Linked DNA regions of Homo sapiens. The protein of the gene in region 2 purifies or fractionates together with the protein of the main gene of each other region. This does not show direct contact. Each region holds a gene or a part of one and is shown on either strand. Other genes may lie near its edges.

Region 1 (7,041 bases), on a different chromosome or scaffold from region 2:
ACCTGCTTTGGGCTCACGAGGGCTGCGGGTTCTGGAGACCTTGCTTTTGGAGCTTTGGCAAATGGAGGGCTCATAGGAGTGCAGTCAGGATGGCAAGCAGACTCGGTCACAGGAGGAATGGAGGCAACTGAGGCCGCTGAACCCGGAAAAGAACAGATTTAGTTAGAAGAAGACATCAAATAGTTGAAGTGCTGCCACAGGGAATAGTAGTCAGCCTTACTTCTCTCTGGCTTTAGAGGGACAAGAGCCCATGGCTGTAAGTCCTAAAATGACAGAATTGGGTTCAGCAGGAGGAAGAATGTTTGTGTGTCTCCCCAAATGGAGTGGTTTGTCTGAGACACACTTACTGCATGTATTCACCTTCCCGATCTAGCTTCTGCTGTGCCTTTCATGTCTTTGTGAACCTCCACAAAATCTAACAAAGTTCAAATAAGCATTCAAATATTTTTAATTAATTGATTATACCTGTAGTATGTTAGGTTTTGAGGCCAGGAATCATATACATCTAGTACATGTTTAAGCTTCCACCACACTAAGCAAATTGTTTTCAAAGACAAACGTGAAAAAAGGCAGCATCAGTACATCACCAATAATTTTAAAAGCACACATCTGTCATTGGTGACCGCGCTGGTCTGTGCAGAGCAGGCGTGTGTGTGAATCTCTGTGCTGACTGACCATATCTGGGCAGACTCTACTTGTAGGGTTTCAGATCGGATCCAGACCCTGCTAGCCGTGAGTGCTGCTATGATTGGAACCCTTTGTCCGACTTGCCTGCCGTGTGCTTTCTTCTTTTCCCTTGATTCTGCAATGTATGTATGGGATTGAGTTAAGGCAGAAGCAAATGCTACAGCACTTTTGTGTGCAGTGTGGGAGAGGTAGAGGATTAGAAAGGAAGGAAGGGCCATGACATTCTGGGATGTGTCTTATGTATTTAGGGAGACCCCCCACTCCTAAGAAGCAACAAATGAACAATTTTTAATTAGTCAAAGGCAAATTATGTGTATCATTTTATGTATTTATTTATTTTTAATAGAGACAGGGTCTCACTGTGTTGCTCAGGCTGGTCTCAAACTCCTGGGCTCAAGTGGTCTTCCCACCTCAACCTCCCAAAGTGCTGGGATTACATGAGCCACCATACCTGGCCTATGAGTCACTTTTCGTCTGGAAAGCAGCAGCATTGTCTCCGCCAGCTCCTTTGGAAGACTGGCACATAATACTTGCTCGGAGACCATGATGCGCTTTGGGAGGCTGCACAGGCTTTTTCGGGGAGCAGTGGAATGGCTGTGTTCTCTCTGCTGTCCACCTGTCTTTGTGGGTAGGTACAGCTCAGGGATGTCTTGGAGGCCTGGGGGTTCCAGGGCCAGTGTAGGAGGAGTGTGGTTTTCTGTAGAGTGGATGGTACAATTCCTTCAGAATCCCCAGTGCTGCAAGCTACTGACCTAGCAAATTGAAAGCCCCACACAGATTATTTGCAGGTTTAATATGCTCCTTTGTACTGTTTGCCCAAGTGACATCGTGAAAGACAGTGATCTGTATTGTGGTGGGGTGAGTGCACATGTGGAACTGAAAGGAACATATTTGGGTCCACACATCGGTGAGGGGCTGCATTCTCATACACATACACCCCCATTTCACTCAGAGCTTTTAAAACCTTACCTGCCACTCAAGTGATTGCAGTTCACAGCTAGCTACAATGTGCATACTTTAAGTCTCTTCAGAAGAATCACATAATAAATAAGCCGAATCCTAAGACAGACAGACAGACAGACAGACACACACACACACACACACACACACACACACGCACATTCTGTCTTTATGGAAAATGGCGGCTAATCCATGATCATTTTTTTTTCTAGAAACAGGTTTTAAGATAATATAGTAAAAATATTAAATTAGAAAATGCCTCACTAAGGGTTATAAAACCTTACTGCACTAGAGATAGGTAATTATCCCCTCTACAGCTTAATGACAGTTTAAAAGAAATAAAAATGTTAGTGCTCATTACTTGCTTTTGTAGTTTGCAATAAAGGGTAAGTTAAATTTTAATTCAAGGAAGAGCCCCTGCTATCGACCTTCTACCTCAGGTCCAAGTCCTGTTAATTACTCCGCAGGCTGCTCCCCTGCATGATACCAGCATGAACGCATTGTCTACAGTGGACACTCCCACTGACCATGAGTGTGTGTGTGCTGGGGGGTGGGGGTATTACAGATCAGTGATTTGCATCTTGATTCTTAATGTGATGGGGAGCAGGAATTATGTGTTTTTTTAAAAAGTTGATTATGCATAGCCTTAAGGGGACCTCAGGTATGAAACTACACACTTACCCTGGAGAATCTGATGGAACAAGGTTAACCTGGAGGATTGATAGTTTAGCTTCTCCACATGGCTAAATCCCAGTTAGGAAGATGCAGCCGGGGGGAAATGTTTATGCAGTGGAAGGCGGTCTGGCCCTCTGTCCAGTGGCACCTTTTTGTAGCCTCGTCTTTACTTGCAGTTTTTCTTGGGATGGGGTAAGGGCTGTGGACATGTTTTGTTTCTTTTCAGATGTCTTTGCCTTTCCCTAAGCACCTAGACACCTGCCTAGGTTTGAGGGAGGAAGAGCTCAGTGCACCCTGTGGCTCAGTCTTCACACTGGGGTATGCAGAGACTTTCCAAGGGGAAGGTAGACACAGATAGTCAAGGAGTCAGTCTTCAGACGTACGCTCTTTCCTAAAGCTGTCTGCCCCAGAGCAGGCCTGTGCTGGAGGGCTAGGTTGTCCTTTTACCCTCGTCCTTCTCTGGCCTTGAAAAGCCTCCCTCGAGCCCCTCCTTAAAGTGACATGGACCTCGGGCTGCCACAGGAAAACCTCCAGGGCCTCAAACCCAAGGACAGCTGGAAATATGGGTACAGAGATTGAGAAAGCAAACGCCTAAGGACTAGAGGACAAGCCCTGTGCAGGCCGGGTGGTTTCTGGGTCTTCACTTCCAGCAGAATCGCTGGAGAACACGAGTTGAATTGAGTTGGCAGTTGGTTGACCGTTAGGACTAATGTTTGGGGACGAGTCACTGTGCGATTTTTTGTGTGTGCTGTATAATTCAGAAAGAGCAAAAAGAATCAAGTGGCATTGCTATGCCAGAACTCTGTCATTCCTATCTGCTTGTTTATATGACAACATTTCTCAGTGCTTATGTCTACAAAAAACAAAAAAATAGGAGTAGAATTGATGCTGAACCCTCCTTCATTCTGGCAATAAATAATATTCCTCCATGGATCCATGAACAAATGGAGGGAAAAGCCTCATCCATATCATTAAGGGATGCATTTCTAATAACATTTTACACATGTATGAATACTAAATTTTCACTAAAATTAGGATATATTATATCATATTATTATATATTGATTATATCCTAATAATAATCCAGAGGAACATTTTTAAACTACTTAGAGCCTTATAATGTCAAACAATTAAAATATTTTCATTTCAATTTTTTGAATTTTAAAAATTTCAAAAGTGCTTTTATTTACAGACTAATGTGGCCAAGAAGTATGATAAGGGTGATTGATAAAAGACATTCAAGCATGAAACCATTATATTAGGACAAAACTCTGTAGGGAAAAGTCAGGTGGAAATAAAATTTAAAAAGAAAAAGGTGCTATAAAATGTCCAAGTTAAAAAGTTTATGTGTGGCCCACGCCTGTAATCCCAGCACTTTGGGAGGCCAAGACGGGCAGATCATGAGGTCAAGAGATGGAGACCATCCTGGCCAACATGGTAAAACCCCGTCTCTACTAAAAATAAAAAATTAGCCGGGCGTGGTGGTGCGCACCTGCAGTCCCAATTACTTGGAAGGCTGAGGCAGGAGAATCGATTGAACCCGGGAGGCGGAGGTTGCAGTGAGCCGAGATTGCGCCACTGCACTCCAGCCTGGCGACAGAGCGAGACTCCATCTCAAAAAAAAATAGTTTATGTGTTACTTGAATGAACGATGAGTATCAAATCATTATGGCATGTAGGTTCCATTGCAGGCATTACAAAAGTTAATTTTCACAACATCCTGGTCATTATATATTTTGTAACTATTTAAACTTACTGTGAAAAACGTTATAAAAATGTGCAACCCTACCTTCTCCAACCTAGTAAAGAGGGAGGAAGGGCTGTGCCTCCCTGTACCACCCAGCTGCTCAGGGCAGGAGCCAAAGCCAGGACCTGGAAAGAGGAAGGGCTGAGGCCAAGCTGAACCGCTGGAATCTACAGTGGGGGTGGCTGGTGGGGGGCGTGTGGGGCGGGGATCTTCATCCCCATGCTGCTCCTGGGCCCCAGGGAGGGTCTGCTTTGTCTGTCTCAGAGAAGGGAGTGGAAGAGTCAGCCAGGAGGTTGTTGCTGTGTGCTTCATGAGAAACGGTGAGATCTGACCTAGTGGAAGCCTGGAGGAGCTGTGAAGTTTGAGATGCTTTGAAGGTAAAAACGGTCACCAGCTGGTGATAGTGGGTGAGGAAGATGTAAAAGTTGAAATTGCTTGGGGACTTTTAGATTGAAATAATCCCCTATTGATATTCTCTCTCTCTGAAAATATTTTAAGAACCCAGACCACTCAGCTTCCCAGGTTGCTTTGCCATGAACAGCTGCATATGTTTGTCAGCTTTGCCCACCTGAGTGTGAAATGATGTTCTATGAAAACATGGGTTTCAGCATTTCACTCTCTGCTCCTGACACGTGAACCCTGCTGCGGACAGTAACTGCTGCCTTCGGCCCAGGCGTTGCACTGATATTGCGCGCAGAGTGGAAGCATTTGCTCAGTGGTAATGATGGGGTCTGGTGCAGGCAAGCGCGGCGAGGCTGGAAAGGGTATGATGTGAAGGGCTAGCCTCGCGCCTCTGCATTTCTTTCTCATCAGACGTTGTTGTCCTAAAGTCACACTGTCCTTTTGTTATGGCAACTCTCCCTTTCACGCCATTTAATTTTTTGTGTGGAAACAGCTAGAGAGACTTGTCTTTACTGGCAAATAGGCAGGCCATGGTGTGATGAAGTGGAGCCTGCCCTGGGCACCGAAGTATCCGTGTGACGGAGCTGCTGATTTGGAAGCCGTGGGTTTGCATTTGGTCTGGGGCTGCCGTCCACCTTGGCAGGCTTCGTCTGGGCTGATTGAGGCTAGTCACATGGATGTGTGTAACAGAAGAGCAGAAGAGATGGGTGGAGCCAAGGGGGAAGCTGTGTCCTTTGTCTGTGGCCTAGGGGTCTGCTGGGTAGTTCAGGGTGAAGGCACCAGCACATTCTTGGGATAAAATTCCTGTAATAAAATTGGAGGCCTGTTGTTTTCTGGCCTGCACTTTCACTGCCTGTCCCTCCCGCGGTCCCCAACATGATAAGGCTAGCTTACATTTGTGGCTTCTGTAGTTCTTCCTTAAGATGTTTTTCTTTTGACTTTTTTAAAGCTTTGATACTCTATTCCTTTTGTTGGATTTCCTAATTGTAGTACCTTTATTCCTATCCATAACTATAGTAGGGTGACTTCAAAAAAAGACCAGTAGTTTTTTGTGTTGAAGCCTTGCTGTTTGAAAGGTGGGGTTTTTTGGTTTTGCTTTTAAAGTCTGATGTGCCGATGCTGACCCTCAGATGATGAGAGCACTTTTAAAACAAGACGGCAGGCTGGAATTTGAGTTCCATCTTGAGAATATCCGAGCAGGTGTAGATTTCTTCTGGGGCTCCTGGCCCATGACCTCAGCCCTGTGTGCGCCTGCCCTGTCTCTGTGAGGGCTACCGGCTGGGCCTTCTGCAGGGCGTGGACATGGATGGCTGCCTCTGCGGCCACGTGCTACACGCCCACCTCCCTGATGACAGGGACGTCCTCACACGGGTCTTGCCTGCTTGGAACCTCATGGGTCCCTCATGTCTCTGCAGGGAGGATCTGCTCTGTATCCACAGGGGAAAGTGTTCTGGAGCTTCTGTCTCAACGATAGGAAAGATCCCTGCCCCACCCACACCCCTTTTAGGTTTTCCAGGCCTTGACACATGGCTTTGGCCGATGTTTGTGTGTATGTTGCATTTAAAAGAGTTTGAAAGTGGTCATTTACTTTTCTTTTTAGGGGCCCAAGACCCTGGCATGTTATTGTTTTAATGTCAAAACCCAACTTTAGAAATAAATTAGCCAATCATATTATTTATTAGACTGAGAATAGAGACAGGGCAGCTGGGGAGTGTGGAAGAAGCTTGGTTCTCTTCCTGAACAACTGCACAGATGATAGTAATTGGAATCGTGTTGCTGGCTCATTTTCATTGTTTTTCAAGTACTGCCAAGTCCAAGAAAATGTATGAAAACTAAATTATATCCCCCTACATCCCATGTCTGATTGAATCCTCCTCATCGGATGGCGGTCTCCTACATCCTATTAAAATATTCAATCTTGTTTTCTTACTTGAAGAGCCTGTCTGCAAAGGGCAAACTTACAGAACACTCATTCCCTGGAGACGGGTGTCCAGCCGCACTGGACCATTTACATATTTTACTGTTTGATTGGGTTTCTTCCTTCTGTTGTATTTGTGAGTAAGAGCTGTGGGGTGCATTTTTAATTACATGGCTGTGTTTTCAACAGAAGAAACAGAATGGGGTATTTTCCAGCTTCTGCGTTCCTTTTTAACCTTGAATAGTGAACCAGTGTGTTAACCAGTTTGCTGTGTTTGTCTTTTAGGACAGAACTGTACCGCTCTCTTTTTGGCCAGCTCCACCCTCCCGACGAAGGCCACGGGGATTGACATCGCCCACCTCCGACACCCAGTGGGCGCCTTGGCTGGTGCGGCTGCTGGTCCAGATGGAGGAAACCAGTGACTTTATGGGGCTGAGCTAGTAGGGAAGCCCCTGGAAAGATGCTGCGTTCCGAACCTGTGCCTAATACACGCAAGGGCGCTGTCCCGCCCAACCCCGCCTTTAAACGCCACAAATAAAGAGCATTGTTACCGCCACCACCGCTTGTGATTTCTTAAGAGGCTGAGAGTCAGTCTGGTTTGGTTCTAGTGGATGACACATTTACTGAGCTTTTTTTTTTCTAGTCCAGTGGC
Region 2 (7,041 bases):
AAAATTTTTGTTTTTTTTAAATTACAGTTATACATGCATAGTTTTAAAAACTAAACATTTCAGTCTGGGCACAGTGCCTAACACAAACATTATGGGCTCACACCTGTAATCCCAGCACTTCGGGAGGCCAAGGCAGGCAGATCACTTGAGGCCAGGAGTTTGAGACCACTCTGGCCAACACAGTGAAACCCCATTTCTACTAAAAATAGAAAAACTAGTTGGGTGTGGTGGTGCGTACCTGTAATCCCAGCTACTTGGGAGGCTGAGGCAGGAGAATTGCTTGAACCTGGGAGGCAGAGGTTGCAGTGAGCCAAGATCACGCCATTGCACTCTAGCCTGGGCAACAGAGCAAGACTCCATCTCAAAAAACAAACAAACAAACAAAAACAAAACAAAACAAAAAAACATTTCTGTAATCCCATCATTTTGGGAGGCCAAGGCAGGGAGGATCACTTGAGCCCAGGAGTTCAAGACCAGCCTGGGCAACATGGTGAAACCGCATCTCTACAAAACATTAGCTGGGTGTAGTGGTGCATGCCTGTGGTCCCAGCTACTCAGGAGGCTGAGGTGGGAGGATCTCCCTGCAAGGCCGCAGTTAGCCATGGTTGTGCCACTGCACTCCAGCCCAGTAACAGAGTGAGACTCTGTCAAAAACAAAAACAAAAAAAACCTAAACATTTCTCCAAGGTTTGTTAGGAATGTAGGCCATCCCATTGTCTGCCCCTTTTCCTCCCTCTGCCTTCCTCCATTTTCACCTCTTCTCAGACAACCACTTTTGCCTTTTTTGCTGATTATTTTGGTATAAATCTCTCTCTCTCTCTCTCTCTCTCTCTCTCTCTCTGCCCCCTCCCCCTCCCTCCCTCTTGCCTGTAGTCCTACCTCTTAACTTTTTAGTGTTAGGCATTATCTTTTGATAACTTTCCTTTCCAAGGAAGCTATATTGTGATTTTGATTAAGTTGGTATTCAGCATTACATTGTTGTACTTTTGTTTTTTGAGATAGAGCCTGTTACCCAGGCTGGAGTACAGTGGCAGAATCATAGCTTACTGCAGCCTCAGTCTCTCGGGCTTAAGTGATCCTCTCACCTCAGCCTCTCAAGTAGCTGGGATTACAGGTGCACACCACACCCAGCTAATATATATGTATGTATATATTTTAGTAGAGCTGAGGTCTCACTGTGTTGTCCGGGCTGGTCTCCAACTCCTGAGCTCAAGAGATCCTCCCACCTCAGCCTCCCAAAGTGTTGGGATTACAGGCACGAGCCACCATGCCTGGCCTACGTAAGTGCTATTTCCAGCCGAGTCAGTAGTAATCTGTGACTGCATTTCTTGTTCAATCTTTGTGTACTTTGAAGTTAATAATTGTCTCTCTTGCTCGTTTTCTATGTAGTTATCACTAATCAACACCCAATTCTATGTCAGTTCTCTAAGTCTTATTTTGAGGTGTTTAGATAGGTTAGACTTATGCTTATTTACCTTCCTGAAGAAGTTGCTTCTAGAATTTTCTGCCCCATTCCATTCTAGCCTGGTCACCTTCTAATCCCGGGACCTCCCTTTACCATTATCCTGGGGATTCACTTCACCTCAGCCCATGTTGGACAGAGAATTACAAGAACCTTCAGTTTCCTGAAGGAATATAGTTTCCAACCTAGGCAAGCAGTCAGTCAATGTGAGGGTATGGTAGATATTTTCAGACATGCAAGTTCTCAACAACAACCAATTCCCCTTAAATGCTGCTTTTCCTCGGGAAGTTGCTAGGGGAGTTGTTTCTCTAAAATAACAGTGTAAGCCCAGGAAGAGGAAGCGTCCTGGGAAACCTGACACGAAGCGACTGTACTGTGCTGCAAGCCCATCTCAGTCTAGAAGTTCGGTCTTCAGTGCTGGGGAATTTTCTTGAAAGAAAATTTCAATTAGTTTTTCCTGCCATGATCCATAGTTATTTTTTGGCAGTGAGGAATAAGAGAGTTAAAAAACTGAATGAAAACTCTAGGTGGGGACAGGGTCCCTCAGTCAGTGTGCAGTGACTTGGCCACACTGTTTGGGGAAGGACACTGCACATGTCATTGTCTCTTAGGTCTTTCTCTTGGCTGGTCAGGTCCTCCTGCTTGGGGGGGTAAAGGCCTGGCTACCAGCATTCCTAGAACTGACCACTGTAGGTCACAAGAGGTTGGAGGGGTCCAGAGGGCACCTCACCCCCATGTGCCAGCCTTGCCCTCCCCTCCTTGTGGCCAGCACACCTCTCTTGCTCTTGCAGTGCCAGCCTCAGCCAAGCAACTTCTCCGTGGGAAAGGGCTGGGGCCAGGCTTTCCAGAGCTGGGGTGTGATTTTTAAATAGGCTTTCTTTCTGGCTTCCAAATTTTTATTACCCCTATTTCCTTTCCTTTTTTTCTTAAGGGTTTATGCCCTTTTTATAAAGCTCCTTTTCTGTTGTTCTAGTGAAGTTTTAGGAGAGATTAGAAGATACTAGTGTTCAAGCCACCATCTTTACTCAGAAGTCTGTACCAGCCTAACTTCATAGGTATCATAGCATTGAAAGAACTAATTTGATTGGCCGGGGTGCAGTGGCTCACGCCTGTAATCCCAGCACTTTGGAAGGCCGAGGCAGGCGAATCACCAGGTCAGAAGTTTGAGACCAGCCTGACCAACTGGTGAAACCCCGTCTCTACTAAAAACACAAAAATTAGCCGGCCGTGGTGGCGCGTGCCTGTAATCCCAGCTACTCCAGGAGGCTGAGGCAGGAGAATCGCTTGAACCCGGGAGGCAGAGGTTGCAGTGAGCCGAGATCACACCACTGCACTCCAGCCTGCGTGACAGAGCAAGACCCCATCTCAAAAGAAAAAAAAGAAAAAAAAAAAAACTAATTTGTTTCAAATGGCAATCATTCTTCATATATGTTACTATGTTGGAACAAAATAATAATAGGCGTCCCACTCAGGTAGACAGATACCATTCTTCCAGGTAGGACTGTGGTATGAATAGTACTTTAATGTTTTCTATATTTTAATGGTAAAGTTGAGCATGTGTAGACGGGTATTTATAGGACGGATCACTAGCCAGACACTTGTAAGCTCCTATAGAACATTAATAGCTATACCTTATCCTACTTTTTTCCTTAAGACAGCTGTGAAAACAAACAGACTAGGAAAAAACCCTGAGGGAAATATTTTTACAAGCTGGGTCAGAAGAGGTTTTATTTTATAGTTGTTCATCCAAAGCATACTTGTCTTTAGGCAATGCAATTGATTTGTTTTAAATTAAGAAAAAAATCTTAATACCAGCAACATATGTAGTCTTTGTAACATTTTCTCTATTTATTAAATATGATTATTACTTTAATAAATATAGTAAGATGAAAAGTAAATATTTGCCCTTGGGTTTTTTTAACCTGAAAATGTGTAATAGGCACATAGTTATTCATTTGAAATTATCTTTCACACTATCATCTATCCGATATCTACAGATAACTCCAAAATTTACATCATAGCCCCCTCCCTTCTCCTGAGACATGGCGCATCGTTCCCAGACACCTAGTGGTGTCCGTCTGAATCCTGGTGCTCTTCTCCCTGTGCCACAGGCATAGGCAGCCCTAAATGGAGCGTGATTTCTTCCCCTTTACTCCACCCCTGCGTTTTTTCCTAATGCTCTCCAGTGATGGATTCTAACTCAGTGTCGCCAGCTTTCTGGTTGCTTAAGCTACATGTTTGAGAGAAGTTTCTAACCCTGTTTTTAATTCTTAACCCTCCCATCTCCATAGCTGGATCTGTCAATTCTAATTTAGAACTGTATCTCGTAATTATTCTTTCTTAAAAACTGTCTGTTCCCATTGCCCTAATTCAGGCCCTGTCTCTCTTGCCAGTTTCTTAAAATGGCTTCTTAGTCTTCTCATGATGCTAACTTCTTACTCAGCAGTCCGTCAGACATCAGGCTGCTGCAGACTTTTGAAGCACAATTTTGGGTTGGTTTGTTTGTTTGTTTGTTTGTTTGTTTGTGACAAGGTCTCTCTGTTACGCAGGCTGGAGTACATGGTGTGATCTCAACTCACTGCAGCCCTGACTTCCCAGGCTCAAGCGATCCTCCTACCTCAGCCTTCCAAGTAGCTGGGACTACAGGCATGCACCACCACGCCTGACTAATTTTTTATATTTTGTATAGACAGCGTCTCACCATGTTGCCCAGGCTGGTCTTGAACTTCTGGCCTCAAGCAGTCCTCCCACCTCAGCCTCCCAAAGTGCTGAGATTGCAGGCATGAACCACCACCTGGCCAGTTCTGTCATCTGGGAGTCTTGAAGCACACTTCTGTTGATCATCCATCTTCTCCTTCCTCCCTCCTTCCCTGTCTCCCTCCTTCGTTTCTCTTCCTTTTTCTCTTCCTCTTCTTCCTCCCCCTCCTCCTCTTCGCTAGTGGTTTCCCCTTATATCTTCAAAATAACAGTCATGGTATTTAAAATCCTTTACAGTATGACCCAATCAAAAAATTGTTTTGAAATTGCATCATTCTTATGTCGCCAGACTATTCACCACTCCCATCGGCTGGAAATGCTGTTTCTTCAGATTTCTACTTGTTGAAACCTACTCATCTTTCAAGCCCCCTCCCTGATGCTGCACCCCCCAGGGCCCCTCCTGGGGTGTCTTTTGTTGGGATTCCTTTTTCTGTCCTCTCCTGTGGCACTTTCAGCACTACCGAGCAGCCCTCAGAAGAGGCCTAGTAGCACGTGTTTGCAGTGTTTTTTCTTCCTTACTAGTTTAGGATCAGGAACTCGATCTTACCTTTCTTTTTCCCTTCGTTGTAAGTCTTTCTTGGAAATGATGTTTAATCAGGGAAACTTGCTGCATTTAATATCTTAGAATTTTAGGTAAGGGTTTATCTGTTTTTAGGTACATACAAATAATAAACAGGCCAAGTTCCTTAATATCTTATGATTTACTAAACTTTTGTATAGGTCTGTCACACAAATAATATTCAGAACTCAACTGCCTGCAATCTTGTTTACTCTCAACAGTGGAGAAATAGTAAAGTAGTCTGTTCAGCAGAGTCAGAGTCCATCACAAACAGGTCAGCTTTTTCCAGCAGTGTTCAGGGCTGTTTACTCTGATTGACAAACAATTCTGAGTAAGCCGTTTCATCTGGCTTCCAAGCCTGTAGCAGAGAAGGAACAATAAGACAGTCCTAAATGTGTAAGATTCTCTGTCATCTACTTAAGTGAACAGGTAAGTTTACAGTACAGTTTAGAAAACTTTCCATTGAAAATGGTACAAATAAAAAGGAATTTAGTATCAGTCCTGAGCTATCTAAATGGGTCTCAGTAGCCAAAGTTTTTGTATCTGAAGGATACACAATATCCTTTGACAACAATTAGTTGACCTGAGGGGGAATATTGATGAAACAACCCTGTAGGGGATGGAAACGTCCCTTCTGTTTCCCAGTAACTCAGCTGGAATCGGTAAACTGACATCACCAGCTTCCTGCATCCCACCATGTGAGTTACTGACTTTGTATACCTCCTCTCCCAGTTTTGGAATCTGAAGTTGAAAGAATTGCTTATTTTAAGTCAGTGTAGTAACTAAGCTTTATTTAAAAGCCCTGTTTTCAGTGGCTCATGCCTGTAATCCCAGTACTATGGGAGGCCAAGGCACGAGAAATTGCTTGAGCCCAAGAATTCAAGACCATCCTGGGCAACATAGTGAGACCCATCTCTACAAAAAATAAAAAATTAGCCGGGTGCGGTGGTGCACCTGTGGTCCCAGCTACTTGGGAGCCTGACTGAGGTGGGAGGATCACTTGAGCCCAGGAGGTTGGGGCTGCAGTGAGCTGTGATTGTGCCACTGCACTCCAGCCTGGAGTGAGACCGTATCTCTAAAAAATAATAAAAGCCACTTTTTAAAAACCTAGTATCTTCTTGAAAGGTGTTTTTTTGCATTAAAATGTTAATTGAAGAAATTCTTTCTAATCTGTTAAGCATAAAGTTAGCCAAAAGGGTCATTCTTGGCTCATTGTGTGTAATGGCCAAGTGGTGTAGAGCATCTGCAAAGTAGATTAATAGAGGTTGTTTTGGTGGTGGCAGCTAAAACCTAGGGGCACGTTGAAAGTCCTGGAAGAAATTTCATAATGAGTTAATAATGTATGCCTCATGCCGCTTATTAACTTATAATAGAATCAGTGTTTTAAAACCATGTTTCTGGTCAAATTTTAGTCAGATATTAACTTAAATTTTTACGTACTTTTTCCTCCTTGTAGAGTCTTCCTAATATTCTCACCGATGATCGATTTAAAGTTATGTTTGAGAACCCTGACTTCCAAGTAGATGAAGAGAGTGAAGAATTTAGGCTTCTGAATCCACTTGTTTCAAAAATTAGTGAAAAAAGGAAGAAGAAACTAAGACTCTTAGAGCAACAAGAACTTCGTGAAAAAGTAATGTACTCCTTATCAGTTAGAATTTGCTACTGTTTCTTTAATGTAATGTTTTCTTTGTAAGTTAGAAGAGTCTTTGATTATACTTGAGATGTAATTAATTCCATATTAAGTGTTTGACATTGGGCTTAGGAGTATTATCTTATTTATTTAAAGGCATTTCTCCTGATGCATGCAGTAGAGCAGCTGTTAGGCACTCATTAATGGGCCAGTGCTGCTTCAGAGAAACCAAGGGGTCTGTGTTTGACTGGGGGAAAGGAGTTGCTGCTTACTATTTTTATTCTCAGGAAGAGGAGGAAGAGCCGGAAGGAAAACCAAGTGATGCAGAAAGTTCGGAGAGTTCAGATGATGAAAAAGCCTGGGTTGAAGAGGTCAGGAAGCAACGCAGACTCCTCCAGCAGGAGGAAAAAGTGAAGCGGCAGGAACGACTCAAGGAGGACCAGCAGACAGTCCTAAAGCCCCAGTTTTATGAGATCAAAGCAGGAGAAGAATTTAGAAGCTTCAAAGATTCTGCCACAAAGCAGAAACTGATGAAGTGAGTAGCACTGCCTGAGCGCACAGTTGACATGTAACCAAGCCCTTGCTTTTCCTCTCTGGCACATTGCCCTAAAGATGACATTTCTGTCTTTGGAT

The links.
Region 1: the proteins of NOL10 (region 2) and AATF purify together in Homo sapiens (affinity purification with mass spectrometry; 5 studies listed by BioGRID and IntAct, with this or other methods). This does not show direct contact.

The regions. Positions count from the first base shown.
Region 1 is NC_000017.11:37,049,927-37,056,967, forward strand, and holds the end of AATF (protein AATF), read left to right. Parts: intron 1-2,328; exon of another isoform or gene 2,329-3,236; intron 3,237-6,674; coding exon 6,675-6,738; 3' UTR 6,739-6,945; downstream 6,946-7,041. UniProt on the Homo sapiens protein: Part of the small subunit (SSU) processome, first precursor of the small eukaryotic ribosomal subunit.
Region 2 is NC_000002.12:10,588,945-10,595,985, reverse strand, and holds part of NOL10 (nucleolar protein 10), read left to right. Parts: intron 1-6,234; coding exon 6,235-6,408; intron 6,409-6,695; coding exon 6,696-6,943; intron 6,944-7,041.